Homo sapiens: one gene and its partners. The protein of the gene in region 1 purifies or fractionates together with the protein of each later gene. This does not show direct contact. Each region holds a gene or a part of one and is shown in the gene's direction. Other genes may lie near its edges.

The links. Proteins that work in one complex are often made in the same cells at the same time.
Region 2: the proteins of XAGE1A (region 1) and PCDH7 purify together in Homo sapiens (affinity purification with mass spectrometry, with the first as the bait; one large-scale study listed by BioGRID). This does not show direct contact.
Region 3: the proteins of XAGE1A (region 1) and CELSR1 purify together in Homo sapiens (affinity purification with mass spectrometry, with the first as the bait; one large-scale study listed by BioGRID). This does not show direct contact.
Region 4: the proteins of XAGE1A (region 1) and E4F1 purify together in Homo sapiens (affinity purification with mass spectrometry, with the first as the bait; one large-scale study listed by BioGRID). This does not show direct contact.

Annotation. Positions count from the first base shown.
Region 1 is NC_000023.11:52,494,671-52,498,607, forward strand, and holds the start of XAGE1A (X antigen family member 1), read left to right. Parts: upstream 1-1,137; 5' UTR 1,138-1,239; exon of another isoform or gene 1,240-1,368; coding exon of another isoform or gene 1,369-1,559; intron 1,560-2,645; coding exon of another isoform or gene 2,646-2,691; coding exon 2,692-2,787; coding exon of another isoform or gene 2,788-2,803; intron 2,804-3,314; coding exon 3,315-3,441; intron 3,442-3,937.
Region 2 is NC_000004.12:30,922,869-30,926,368, forward strand, and holds part of PCDH7 (protocadherin-7 isoform d precursor), read left to right. Parts: intron 1-3,500.
Region 3 is NC_000022.11:46,387,621-46,391,120, reverse strand, and holds part of CELSR1 (cadherin EGF LAG seven-pass G-type receptor 1 isoform 1 precursor), read left to right. Parts: intron 1-45; coding exon of another isoform or gene 46-278; exon of another isoform or gene 279-593; intron 594-634; coding exon 635-729; intron 730-1,621; coding exon 1,622-1,831; intron 1,832-3,500. UniProt on the Homo sapiens protein: Receptor that may have an important role in cell/cell signaling during nervous system formation.
Region 4 is NC_000016.10:2,230,091-2,233,590, forward strand, and holds part of E4F1 (transcription factor E4F1), read left to right. Parts: intron 1-2,080; coding exon 2,081-2,274; intron 2,275-2,365; coding exon 2,366-2,486; intron 2,487-2,665; coding exon 2,666-2,818; intron 2,819-2,920; coding exon 2,921-3,093; intron 3,094-3,347; coding exon 3,348-3,500. UniProt on the Homo sapiens protein: May function as a transcriptional repressor. May also function as a ubiquitin ligase mediating ubiquitination of chromatin-associated TP53. Functions in cell survival and proliferation through control of the cell cycle.

The DNA of each region.
Region 1 (3,937 bases):
AGAGTGACACTCTGTCTGGAAAAAAAAATAAATAAAAACGGCTTTATAAATAAAGATATGAAAATAATTTATTTCTTCCACAAAAGGTCTTCCTGAGACACATCCTCCAGTAAGGGACTGTCTGTTCCCAACGTTTCTGAATGCATGAGATTGGACAAAGAGAGACGAAAGCTCTCAAGTCCCTTTTTCTACTACAAACGCCATGGGGATGCGGGTCTGGGAACAGCGGAAAACCCTACCCTGCCCTGAAAAGTCCCTGGCTCAATGTGCATGTCCCTTTCTATGAAAGTTCCTTGCTGCCTATGCGCCTTGCTCTCTAACTTCTGTCCCTCCACAACTGTGAAAGGAGACGTCGTGACTTCCTTCTTTCGTGCTGACTATGACTTAGCCAGTAGGTCTGCAGATCAGTCCTCCCAGAAAGTGAAGTGTGAGTGAGTGTGAGGGGGAGCGTGGGGGGCTTCCTGTGGGTTGTGCCACTTGGTCCATGGCCTCTGAGGTCGTCATCTTTCTACTAAAACTCAGCGATACTGCCATGGCCTTGCTGTTGTGGGGTCCCGGGCATGGGACGAAGGAGGGCCATAGCGGGGAGGAGGGTCAGGTGAGCATGGAGTGAGTTTTTTTTTTTTTTTCACGGAGTCTTGCTCTGTCACCAGGCTGGAGTGCAGTGGCGCAATCTCGGCTCACTGTAACCTCCGCCTCCCGGGTTCAAGTGATTCTCCTGCCTCAGCCTCCCGAGTAGCTGGGAGTACAGGCGCGCACAACCACACCCAGCTAATTTTTGTATTTTTCAGTAGAGACGGGTTTTAACCATGTTGGCGAGGATGGTCTCGATCTCTTGGCCACATGATCCACCCGCCTCCGCCCCCCAAAGTGCTGGGATTACAGGCGTGAGCCACCGCGCCCGGTCATGGAGTGAGTTTTGAAGGCTGACTTTATTTGAGGTATTTGAGTCCTGGTGGGGGGGAACCCACACACAGAGAGGAGGGATTCCAAAGTCGTTAATGGGGACCTGGGAAGGAGCATAGGACAGGGCAAGGCGGGATAAGGAGGGGCACCACAGCCCTTAAGGCACGAGGGAACCTCACTGCGCATGCTCCTTTGGTGCCCACCTCAGTGCGCATGTTCACTGGGCGTCTTCCCATCGGCCCCTTCGCCAGTGTGGGGAACGCGGCGGAGCTGTGAGCCGGCGACTCGGGTCCCTGAGGTCTGGATTCTTTCTCCGCTACTGAGACACGGCGGGTAGGTCCACAGGCAGATCCAACTGGGAGTTGAAGTGTGAGTGAGAGTGAAGAGGAACCAGCAGGCTTCCGGAGGGTTGTGTGGTCAGTGACTCAGAGTGAGAAGGCCCTCGAAGTCGTCGTCCCTCTCATGCGGTGCCACGCCCATGGACCTTCTTGTCTCGTCACGGCCATAACTAGGGAGGAAGGAGGGCCGAGGAGTGGAGGGGCTCAGGCGAAGCTGGGGTGCTGTTGGGGGTATCCGAGTCCCAGAAGCACCTGGAACCCCGACAGAAGATTCTGGACTCCCCAGACGGGACCAGGAGAGGGACGGCATGAGCGGTATGGAAGGGTCCTGGAGACGGGGCATGCTGCGGGCTAGTGACCGCAGCCCCGAGGTCTGTAGAGTGCCTGGCATAGGGGTCCTGTGAGGAGTGCCCACTGCTGTGTAGCAAATTCTCAACTCCACTGTGGAGATTCCAATGGGCGGGGCCCTGAGTTCCTAAAAATGTGACTTTGGGGTGGGGGGGAAGTGGGCCTAGCAAATCATTATGTGACAAAATTGGTGGTCACTGCAGTTTCAGTTCTGTAGCTGTAATTTCCTACTTGTCTCCCTGATGGAGTGTCCAGTTGTGAAACCAACCTCATGGGAAATGCCCTGTGTTTTTTGCCAGGAGCCTTAAGACATCGCTCAGCTAGCTAGACCTACTTAAGTGGCTTTGCAAGCATTCGATTCAAAAGGTGCATACACTTATACTTGCCCGGGGACTTTCAGAGTATTTCTAAATTAAAAAAAAAAAAAATGTCCAAGTTAACATTTGACCATGAAAGCGGTCAAATCTAGTTGTCCTGTCAAGTGCATTTTCCCAATCGCAGTATTCTGCTTGCAGAGTGAAGTATGTGTTGATGAGGACGATCAACATATAGGCCTATGCCAAGAAGTTCACAACCTCCTGAGCTCATTGTGCCTCTGCTTGTGAATGTCTTAACATTCGATGTTTTCTCTTAGCAGAAAGTTATTTTTCTGATAGTGTTGATGGACTAGTATGGATACACTGATAATGGTCTCCCATGCTGATAAAAAATGATCATGGCATCCCATGAAGGAAAGATTAGTCCAGAGGGTTATATTTGGGTTTTGTGTGGGTGGATGATCGTGTGTGCCCAGATTTTGTCCATAACTTCCTCCTCATGCTTATTCAGAACAGATTACACACATTCATCCCAACATTGATTAAAACGGCTTCCAAAGTCCCTGAGGATATCTGTCTTTGAGTAACCTCTCTGAGGGAAGAATAGTGTTATGAAGATTAGGTATACGGGGTAGTGTTGGAGAAATGTCTCTAGACATACTTATAATAAGACATACCTGTGTATTCTGTATATTTATATTATTGACATGTATTAATAACAAAACTTTTTATCTAGACACACACAAACACAGAACCACACAGCCAGTCCCAGGAGCCCAGTAATGGAGAGCCCCAAAAAGAAGAACCAGCAGCTGAAAGTCGGGATCCTACACCTGGGCAGCAGACAGAAGAAGATCAGGATACAGCTGAGATCCCAGGTGCTGGGAAGGGAAAGTATGTCTATGGGGCGGGAGAAGGTCTATGTGTGCATTGTGGCCTATGCCATGAGCAGTAACAGGAGCAAAGAGAACATTAGGAAAAGATACCAAACATTTGCTCAAAGTTGGCTGGAAAAGGGAGAGTATAGTTTGCAGCTTCATGCTGTCCCTGGATATAATGAATCTTCTCTTGTTCTTCGAGATGGATTTTGTATGCTTGAAAATACAGTCCTTACTAAATCACTTGAAACCATTTAATTTGGTGTATAGAAATGTACATTTTTTTATTATGTGGCAGAGGCTCATCTGTCACGCAGTGTGGATTGTTGTGGCATGATCTTGGCTCACTGCCACCTCCAGCTCTTGGGTTCAAGCGACCTCGGCCTCCCAAAGTGCTGAGATTACAGGCATGAACCACTACGCCTGGCTCAGGCTTTATTTCGTAACGCGAAGGAAGAGAATATTATCATTTCCTTATTTATATTTCATGTTGGAATGCTTAAATCGATAACCTTTGTATTTTGAAGTGCGCGACATGGAAGGTGATCTGCAAGAGCTGCATCAGTCAAACACCGGGGATAAATCTGGATTTGGGTTCCGGCGTCAAGGTGAAGATAATACCTAAAGAGGAACACTGTAAAATGCCAGAAGCAGGTATGTTATCCAGCAAGATGCAAAGTTATGTGCTTTCTCATTTACACAGTATTATACTTTTGATAATAGAGGGATAACATTAGTGCTACTTTAAAAACACAGTGCAAATGCAAATGTTCTTTGAAACGTCGTTCAGACCCAAATGCCAGATTGCAAGACTTAAACACTATCAGATACAGAAACAAATTGGGTCAAAGCCATATTGAATCATCAAACGTGACAGCATTTTCTTAGTTTGGTGTATAACCAACAGCTAACAATTTTCAGATTCTTTTCTAATTTCTGCTTTTAACAAACACATAATGCATTTGTAATACCAGTTTGTGTGAAGTATGCTGAGCCCTGAAGCAGATTCTAGTACCAGCTCTACCATAATTTGTGAGAGTCTGGATGAATCGTATAAATTCCACAGGCATCCTTGCTCTTAGTGAAAAGAGTGGATGCACATCAGATAGATTAAAATCCATTTCGTTGCTAATTTCCACATGCTCTGGTT
Region 2 (3,500 bases), on another chromosome or scaffold:
CAAATTTGTTGGGTCCGTGTTTTCAGACTACTCATCTAGCCATAAAGTGCAATTGTGTTGCTTAAATTCTGGTAATTTCATCTTCAGTATTAATGGATCATTCTGACATAAATAGAATTGGAATTGAAACCTGTCAAGTATTCATTTGTCACATTTAATTGGAATCCAGGTAATCTGTAGTTTTTTGCTTGGCTAGGTTTTAATCAGGATTTGTATTGGATTTTCATTTGGATTTTCCATTAAAATACCATTTTGGATGCTGTGCTAGTTCCTAATTATTATTACCTCAAACATTTTTCTTGAATTTTAACCTATGTGAAACAATGCAGTTATCAGCAAGTGTTTGGGATTAACTTTCATTGTAAAGTTTAGAAGATAATTTCTAGTGCAATAACAAGTAAAATTCCAATGTCATGCTAACAAACCAGGAATAAGTTAGGATAGCTAATGATAAAAATACATTTTCACAAATGCAGAGAAGGAACAGAAACAAGAAAATTTAAGTGAAATGTACTTACATTTTACAAAAGCGTTATCTTCCTTCTGTACTGTAGTATGATGAATACAATTTCATTCAAAGGGCCTGTGTATTAATTCCCTGTTTAACAAGCTTTACGCTATATTCTAAAACACATTACCGCCAAATGTAGAATGAGGTTTTATTCTCTTATTAGCTAAGGAAAAAGAATATACCATAAGAATAAATATAATTTCTTACCACCGGAATCTAATAATGTAGAATGAGATCCACCATTTTAAAGTTCCAAATCTGTAGAATGCCACAGGTCCCTGGAAAGTAACACTAGAAATTACCCCATTTAAAAAATATTTTAAGAAAACCTTATTAGTTATACATTTATTTGTGACAAAGATTACTAATATATATTTCTTTGCCTTTAATTATCATCATTATGATAATTTCATGCTAATCTTTTAATATCAATCTAATCAAAGATTGAGGAAATTGGTTATTTGTTTCATTAAAATACATTTAGCAATAAAGTAATAATTCATATAGAGTTTATGGGGGAAATAGGTAATACAAACATTTGACAATGAAAATGTTAGAATAATTGATGCATATTGCAATGGATTGGTAATTCAAGTTAAAAACCAAACATTAGGCTTAAAAGCACCATCTCATTCAAGGCAAGCATTGACTGTGCAAGAGTTTGCTCTTATTTTAATTACGCAGTAGTCTTCAGACTTTCTCTTGGAGTGGTATACAATGGTTTCTTTAGGTCTATTGTATTTATCCTGGTCCCTACCTTCATGCCATGACCTACTTGATCTTTCCAAAGCCCCCTCTAAATTATCTTTGCAAAGCCAGTTTGCCTTTGCTATGTAAGTCTTTATGATAATTAGTGTTTAATAAGCTCAGATATAGAAAACACCTTGCTTGGCTTCTCATCTCAATTTTGCCATCAGCATTGGGTAGGCTACTGTCTAAGGAAATTGATAAATCAACTCTGAAATCTTACTCGGTTCCAGGTCCAATAATCTGTGATTCTCTTACATTCAATTTTTCTTGTATCTTTTATGCTATAGAATGGAGACATTTGTCTCATAGTAAGATAGTGAGTGAATTTGACAATGTATGTTAATGTGGGCAGGCCAGTAGTGATTCTAGGGCCTTTCTCTGAACCCACACAGCAAGTGCATTTTAATAGTAGAAAATGCATTTATTACATAAATCAAAGGAGTGGACTGAATCAAATGGTGTGATTTCTGGCCAGGTGGGTGGAAATGTTGGCACCATAGTAGGCCAGTGTGGGAGACAGCTGTGGAGCCTCCTTCAGATCCCACTATGCAAGAACCATCTGTAGATCTGATCAAGCCCTGGGTGCAATGCCCTTGAAATACATGAATTATGATTAAGACATTTCACAATAGAATAAGCACATGTGTTTTCTTACTTAACAATGTGAACTTTGGTCAGAGTACAAATGAAAAAAAAAAGGTAGGAAATAATATATATTTTTCTGTAGGTAGACTTTCTTAAATATCACACCATAAAAATAAATTAAAAAAAAAACAGCAGATGATCCATAAACCAGGTTTATAACAAGTTAAATGAGGTTCGAAATTTGGCCACTCTAAATCCCTAATTCATTTTATGCCTCTTGATTTTCTCAGATCTTTAAATAATACTTTTGACTTTATACATGAATATTTTTGAACTTTCCCTTTCCAAACTTCCTTACTTTGTCACACTTATATAAGCTAAGCTCAACTGTTTGATTCATTCCATTTCCTTCATCTCTTCATTCTACATGCATTATACCTTGTCCTTGATTATTTAAACATGCTGCAGTAAAACATGGACTTTTCATATTGCTTTTAGACAGTGTATTTGAAATATCATTGAGAATAAGCCACTAATTTTAAATGGCCAAGTGTAATGAGCATAGAGACCAAAGGCATATCTTTGTATGAGATAAAGGACCTCCTCTTTCTCTCTCCTTTTCTCCTGTCTCCCAATTTTCAAGCAGGCATCTGTCAGGCAAAGTTGTCTAGTTATTGGTTTGTGCTGATTTCACGTAGATTGAGCAAACTTCTCTAGCAAGGCTGCCTCTTCCATCTTTCCAAAGATCCTCATATACTTTTTAATGGCATAAGCACAATACCTAAAATACCAAATACCTGTCATACCTTTTTTCGTCTTCTGCAGAAAGAGACTAACATGACTTGCTAAGGATTCATTTTCACAGTTTTGCATTTCTCTGTGCCACCCTAGTTGCCAGTGTCTGACTGAGGCTGCAATTGTTTTCACCTTTCCTGTCAATTGTGACATGGCTCTATACCTCCCAAGTATCCCCCAAAAGTCTGTATGCCACCACTTTGGGAGGGTGCTATTCACTTTGAATTTCTTCATAGTAATATATAGAGAGATGGATTATAGAGACTGTCTCTAAGCCAGAACTCAACTAATTAAAATGTGTGCTATAGTGGCTTCTCAGCTGTCTAGTAAAATGAGCAGTACAATCTAAAAGAGTCTAAAGAAGGTACTGTCCTAGAGAAGAATTGGCAGTGCTGTAAGTAGAATCTACTGGTTTACAAAACAAGCTTTGAAATCTGATGACCTCAGTTTGAATCCTGGCTTTACCTCCTACAAGGAGTATTATTTTCTAACCCCTCTTAGCTTCAGTTTGTTCAATTGCAAATCATAGGATTGCAGAAGGAACTAAATGAGACAATAATATGCAATAATTTATAAATAAGTAATAAGTTGTATTTTCACTATATTAATTGATAAAATGTTTTACCATTATTATTTAAATAACAATGATAAATAGTTGGGATTATTATTAACTTTAGGTCGTTTTTTTTTTTTGAGATGGAGTCTCACTCTGCCACCCAGGCTGGAGTGCAGTGGCACAATCTCGGCTCACCGCAAGTTCCGCCTCCTGCGTTCAAACCATTCTGCTGCCTCAGCCTCCAGAGTAGCTGGGACTATAGGCGCCCGCCACCACACTCGGCTAATTTTTTGTATTTTTAGT
Region 3 (3,500 bases), on another chromosome or scaffold:
ATGTGGGGACTCATGGAATGTTTCGTGTTGAAAAAATATCCGCAGGCAAAGTGCTGGGGAGAAATCCGATCGCCTTTTCCCTACCAGGAAATACACAAAGCAGGCAGAGGGCGCAACAGAAACATGAACAGTGCAGCGCGTGTGGGGACGCCCGCCAGTCAGGCCCGGCCAGTCCCTGCTCTGCCGCTCAGGCTGGGGCACCGGGACAAGTGGCTTCACTGTTCATAGCATCGGGTTACCTCTGTGAAATGGGGACATTGACTGTGTCCACTCTGTGAGGGGCGTCTGGAAAATCCAGTGAGGCAAGGAAAGGCCCAGCCGAAATGGATTCCTGGTGCATGGGATCGTGGCTGCCGGCAGATGGTGTTGCTGATTTCTTTCCTCACGGACTTGCTCGGAAGTGCTGGCTCCTGTTGGCTGGGCTCCCGAAACGCCTGGTTGTCAGTGTCAGAGCAGCTTCGGCCGTGGCCCTGACATGAAAGAGGGGCGCTGGTGTCGACCTCCTGGCCCCCATGGGGTTCTAACCACCACGCAGTGTTCTGGGTTTAAGTATATTCAGATTGTGGATTGAAATACACAAGCATTGATCAACAGTTTGAGTTTCAGGCTTTGCACACCTGCTCTCCTTCCCCAGGAAATGCGGTCCGACACTGCAGCGGGGAGAAGGGCTGGCTGCCCCCAGAGCTCTTTAACTGTACCACCATCTCCTTCGTGGACCTCAGGGCCATGGTAGGGGCGCCTCGGGGATGTGTGTTCAGCAGGGGCACGTGTGTGTTCGTGTATGCGTGAGAGAGTTTGTGTGGGCCGAGGCTCCTGGGCTGGGGAGTGTTGGGGCGGCTGGGATGGCGCAGGGACAGCCCCACGGGCCCGCAGCCTGGAGCCAGCAGGTTCCTGTGGACTTCGGGGTGTTGGCACCTGAGCCAGGCACCCCCACGTGGACTTCTCTCCCCCAGAGGACCCAGCTCTGTGTCTTTGGTTCTGAAAACACGGGGTCCCTGCATTTGACTCCATTTGCCCTCTGATCCTGCCCTATTTCATGGCTTTTGTTCCCACGTCTCCCACTCGCTATCTTTCTCTGAGCCCTCTTTGGCCCACCAGACCCTCGTTTCCATGGTCTAGCTGTCAGCAGTGCTCATTTTTGGGCTTTTTGTTTTTTGTTTCTTTTTTTGGAGATGGAGTCTCACTCTATCTCCTAAGCTAGAGGACAGTGGCACGGTCTCAGCTTGCTGCAACCTCTGCTTCCCGGATTCAAGCGATTCTGCCTCAGCCTCCCTGGTAGTTGGGACTTACAGGTGCCCACCACCACACCCTGCTAATTTTTTTATTTTTAAAATAGAGACATAGAGTAGAGTATTTTCAAAATAGAGAGTAGAGACGGGTTTTCACCATATTGGACAGGCTGGTCTTGAATTCCTGACCTCAAATGATCTACCCGCCTTGGCCTCCCAAAGTGCTGGGATTACAGGCGTGAGCCACCATGCCCAGCCAGGCTTTTGGATTTTTTAAAGTTCCTTTCTGACAAGGAAACTTGCACCAGACAGTAGTGAGTTGCTGAGTAACAGCAGGGACTGAAAGCGGCCGAAGTGGGTTTGCACACATCACGACTGCCTCCCTGTTCCAGAATGAGAAGCTGAGCCGCAATGAGACGCAGGTGGACGGCGCCAGGGCCCTGCAGCTGGTGAGGGCGCTGCGCAGTGCTACACAGCACACGGGCACGCTCTTTGGCAATGACGTGCGCACGGCCTACCAGCTGCTGGGCCACGTCCTTCAGCACGAGAGCTGGCAGCAGGGCTTCGACCTGGCAGCCACGCAGGACGCCGACTTTCACGAGGTAGGCGGGTGGCCGCCACCCTGGCTCGGGGACACTCGGGGACACTCGGATGCCCGTGGGTGGGTGCTGTGGGGCTGGGCGTCTACCTCAGTTCGTGGAAGACGGTTGTGTCCAGGATCCCCATCCTCATTTCTCAAATGTGAGCCCTGGCGGGTGCAGTGCCTGACTAAACTGACGACGAGCGTTAGGGAGTGTTCTGGAAGGAAACATGCAGGTCACAGCCTTGCTGGTGATCCTGGTAGTGCCTGTAGTGTGATCTAAGTGGCTTCTAAGGGATTCTAAGTGGCCCACCTGCATCAGCCCCTCTCCCTTCCATGCAGCCTGTGATGGAGTATCGTCCACCCATTTGACAGGTAAGGAAACAGAGGCACAGAGAGCTAAGGCGTTTGCCCAAAGGCACAGCTTGTAAGGGGCAGGGCCCGGCAGTGGGCCCCCATGTCCACTCCCACCCGCAGCTCTGAGGTCCTGCTTTCAGAGGGCCACACCTCCGCCTCAACCCTCTGGCTGTGTGTGTGGAAGTTGTCATCCCCTGAGCAGTATCGTTTTAGGGTGAATGCAGAGGGGACTCACGCAGCCTGATATTTGGAAACTGCTTTCGGGGGCTCCAGAAGTTTCGTTGTGGCTCTGCTGCAGGCCTCTTCGTCCAGACAGGACCCCCAGAGGAGTGCCTGTCCACACAGAGCCCATGGGGGACACCCTGTCCCTCCCACCCATCCCCACGGAGCCCTCAGGGACCTCCTCATCCACAAAGGGCCTCCAGTCCATGCAGGGCCCCCATGGAACCTTCTAGTCTGCATAAGGCCGCCAGAGACCAGGCAGGGTCCCCTTGCTGGGATTTGAGTCCCAGCCTGAGAGTTGGGCCAGTGGCGTTTGTTCTCCATGCGTGACTCCACAAACAAGTTTCCTTTCTGGTTTCTTTTTCTTTATTTCTTTTTTTTTTTAAGATGGGGTCTTGCTCTGTTGTCCAGGCTGGAGTGCAGTGGTGCGATCTTGGCTCACTGCAACCTCCACCTCCCGGGTTCAAGCAATTCTCCTGCCTCAGCCTCCCAAGTAGCTGGGATTACAGGCGCCCGCCACCACGCCCGGCTAATTTTTGTATTTTTGGTAGAGACAGGGTTTCACCATGTTGGCCAGGCTGGTCTCGAACTCCTGACCTCAGGTGATCCACCCGCTTCAGCCACCCAAAGTGTTGGGATTACAGGCATGAGCAACCGTGCTCAGCCCTGGTTTCTGTCTTGGGTGTGGTCCCCAAGCCCCTGAGCACAGCCTCATGCCTCCACCCAGTCTTTCACACAGACCCTGGGGTGCACAGAGGCTGAGGGTCACCCTCGGAGGAGCTGTCCACATGTCCACGGCGGCCTCAGTGTGGGACCTCTGCGCAGCCCAGGTTGTGGTGGTTCCATCACTGCTTGACGTGGTTGGTGGAGTTCAGGAGGAGTTCTGATGTAATAACCAGGGGCATCGCCACATGTCTTCCCTGCCTTAGCGTCTTGGGGTATACGTGGAAAAACCCCTGGCAGGGCTCACTCTGCCAGAGTCCCAGCCTCTGACATTTGAATCACCCACAGTCTCTCTGGCTTATTTGATGGGGTTCAGGATTTATGAAAATCACACATTAAAAAATGACTTCTGGCCGGGCGCGGTCGCTCACGCCTGTAATCCCAGCACT
Region 4 (3,500 bases), on another chromosome or scaffold:
GTGGACGGGACTCTCCCGCCTCTCTAGCTGGGCTCGGACTTGCTGCTGGCCGTGGCCTGCCCTCCCCAGTGCTCCCTCTGGTGTGGGAGTGGTGATTGCTACACTGGTCCTCATGGGGCTTTTATGAGCGTGCAATGCCAGGACTCTTTGATGGCTACTTTTTAAGTGAAGATGTCTCTCTCCCTGATGTGCTGTGGGAGGGGCTGTTGCGAGGTCTGGATGGGCAGGCTCTCATCGGGGACAGATGCTTGTGCAGGGGGGCATTCAGAGGCAGCCAGGGCCTGGGCAGGTTGAGGGAGCTAGGGGCTGCTGGGGTTGGGGGTGCGGCAGGGGCGAGTGGCTAGGTGTGCAGACGCGAGGGAAGGAGCTGTCTAGGGACCTGATGCTGTGGGAGGTGGGGCGGGGCATGGCTGCTGCCTGGGGAGCCTGCTGGACCGGGGCTGAGGCAGGCGGGGAGTGGGCAGCTGGACAGGAAGTAGGTTTGGGCACCAGGCGGAACCTGGCCTTGGGCAGCCCTGGGGACTGGCTGCAGCAGGAAGAGGGGGTGGAGGAGCCGTGGCGGAGGCCAACCCGGGGCCTGGGAAGGGCACCTGTGAGCAGGCTGCTCTCCAGGAGGCAGCCAGGGCACCTGTCTCACCTCCGTGCTGCCTTTCCCTGGCATTCCTGCGACCAAGACACTCATCAATGCCACTCAGAGCTCGGAATGTTCATGTGGGAGGTGGGGCGGGCTCTGGCCTTGACCTGGCGTTTGGTTTCTGGGATGGTGGCGTCACCTGGGAGCATGAACTCCTTAGGTTCTGGCGGGGTCTCTGGGCTGGGTCTCTGGCCAGCCAGGCCCCTTTCCACCCACCTAAACTCTAGCAGCCTCCAGCCCTAGGCTCAGCACCCCTCCCTGTGCTTCAGCAGCCCCTCTTGGCACCCCTGCCACTCTGGCACCCCTGGGATTTTCCCCTTTGCGGGCATCCTGGGTACTCTGTGTGTGCCCTTGGCCAGTCAGCAGGCCCGGTGGGCTTAGTCCAGGGCTGCTAGCTCTCCTGTTGGCCTCTAGTGGAGATGGCAGAGGGTCCTGCCTGCTGGTGGCCAAGGGCTGGGGCGTGCCAGGTCCTGTCTTTGCGGGTGCAGGGGTGCGGTCAGCTGTGTGGGCAGTTGGAACCCACCTCCAGGCCCTCCTGCCGCTTCGCGGAAAAAGTTCGCGTCTCCTCTGGCCTCGCAGCAGCCATGTTCCCCCAGGTCCTCCCCATCAGAGGCCTCTGTCCTTTGGAAGATCACTCCTGGGGCATCGAGCGTGTAAGGGCTCGGGCAGGAGAGGCTCTTAATTGTTTCTGAGTCACCACGCTTTTGTCGTGTTTCAAGAGAACAGCTTGTCAAAACAAGACGCCAGCCGGACTGAGGTGGTTTCTAAGCAGTGGCTTCACAGCTGTTTCCCACTTGTCATCTTTATGAGCAGAAAACCTGAACTGTGTTTACAACCTAGCTTTGCACATTGTCAGATTTTTCCCAGCATCCTCCAGAAGTGCAAAAGCCCAGCTTCCTCGCCTCAGGCTGTCCCGGGTGTCTGGAGAGCGTTCACTCTCCCAGGCCAAGCCTGCCTTGGGACGGGGCTCTGGCCAGGCCTGCCTGCCCTGCTGCAGTGGCCCAGCCCATCTCCTCCGATGGAAGAGTGGCCCCGGACGCACATCCTCCCTATGTTGGTGGGAGCAGTGGCAGGAGCAGTGGCAGCGAGCAGGACAGGCGGCTGTCTCTTCACCCAAGGACCTTGTCACCAGGATTCGCACGTCCTCCTGGCTTTGGGGATGGGGCATCTGTGCTCCATGGTGGGTCTCCCTGTGGACACATTTAGGGGCCCTGGAGCATCTCTGGGCAGCCTGACAGAGTCGGGAGGTGTCTCTCCACCTCTCACTCTGACCTGGAGAGGTGAATGGGACCTTGGCTGTTGCTCGGACCTGTGTGTTGAGGGCTCAGTGCAGGTTGGGTCCAGGGTGTGGCTCAGAGCAGCAGGTCCCCTCCCCTGGAGCCAGCAGTCTCTGGGGTCTCTGGACAGGGGCAGGTCCTGGGGCTTAGGCCCAGATGCTTCTCCTAGGTGGTGGGCACATCAAAGAGGTCATCGTGGCTGCTGAGGCGGAGCTGGGAGACGGTGAGATGGCCGAGGCCCCGGGCAGCCCCCGCCAGCAGGGGCTGGGGCTCGCAGGGGAGGGTGAGCAGGCCCAGGTGAAGCTACTGGTGAACAAGGATGGCCGCTATGTGTGTGCGCTGTGCCACAAGACCTTCAAGACGGTGAGCCGGCGTGCGGGGAGCCAGTGTGTGGGTGGCAGGCCCCCTCCTGTTCCCCCAGGAGGGCCCTGAGCTGCCACGCCCTCCCCCACAGGGCAGCATCCTCAAGGCCCACATGGTCACTCACAGCAGCCGCAAGGACCACGAGTGCAAGCTCTGTGGGGCCTCCTTCCGCACCAAGGGCTCACTCATCCGGCACCACCGGCGGCACACGGGTGAGCTGGCCGCACCTCGGGCTGGAGCCCGGTAGCACCCCGATGGTTGGCCCTGGGGTGCCCCAGCCTCGCATTCCCCAGCTTTGGGGGATGAGGCGGGGGCCCCTGCCTGCCTTCGCCTTGTCACCTTGTCGCCAGCCTGCTGGGGCTGCCCGGGGCTGACTAGGTTCTCTCTGCAGATGAGCGCCCCTACAAGTGCTCCAAGTGTGGAAAGAGCTTCCGGGAGTCGGGTGCACTGACCCGGCACCTCAAGTCTCTCACCCCCTGCACAGAGAAAATCCGCTTCAGTGTGAGCAAGGACGTGGTTGTCAGCAAAGAGGACGCACGTGCAGGTCAGCATGGTGCGGGCAGCTGCCTGGTCCTGGGGGCTGGCTGTGGACGCAGCCGCCACTGGGGTGTGTGAGGGATCTTCACTCCCTCACTCCACCTTGAAGGTTCTGGAGCTGGAGCTGCCGGCTTGGGGACAGCCACATCATCGGTGACAGGCGAGCCTATAGAGACTTCACCCGTGATTCACCTGGTGACAGATGCCAAGGGCACCGTCATCCACGAAGTCCACGTCCAGATGCAGGAGCTGTCCCTGGGCATGAAAGCCCTGGCCCCAGAGGTGGGGGCGACGGGGGGCCCCGGAGGGCTGCTCTGTCTTCTGCCTGCTCGGTGCCAGTCTTTGTTCTGGGCACTGGCTCCAGGGGTCTGAGCCAGGCAGGCGAGGGCTGGGCTTCCCACAGGGAGAGCAGGGCCAGTGGGAGCGCCATGGGGGTCTGAGGGTTTGCACAAGGCTCCTGGCGTGCGTCTGCCCCATGGGGTGGGTGCTGGATGCCAGGCTGCCTGGCCAGCCTCCTCTCTCTGCCTCCCCTGCAGCCCCCCGTCTCCCAGGAGCTCCCCTGCTCCAGCGAGGGCAGCCGTGAGAACCTGCTGCACCAGGCCATGCAGAACTCCGGCATCGTCCTTGAGCGCGCTGCTGGGGAGGAGGGTGCCCTGGAGCCAGCTCCTGCTGCCGGGTCCAGTCCCCAG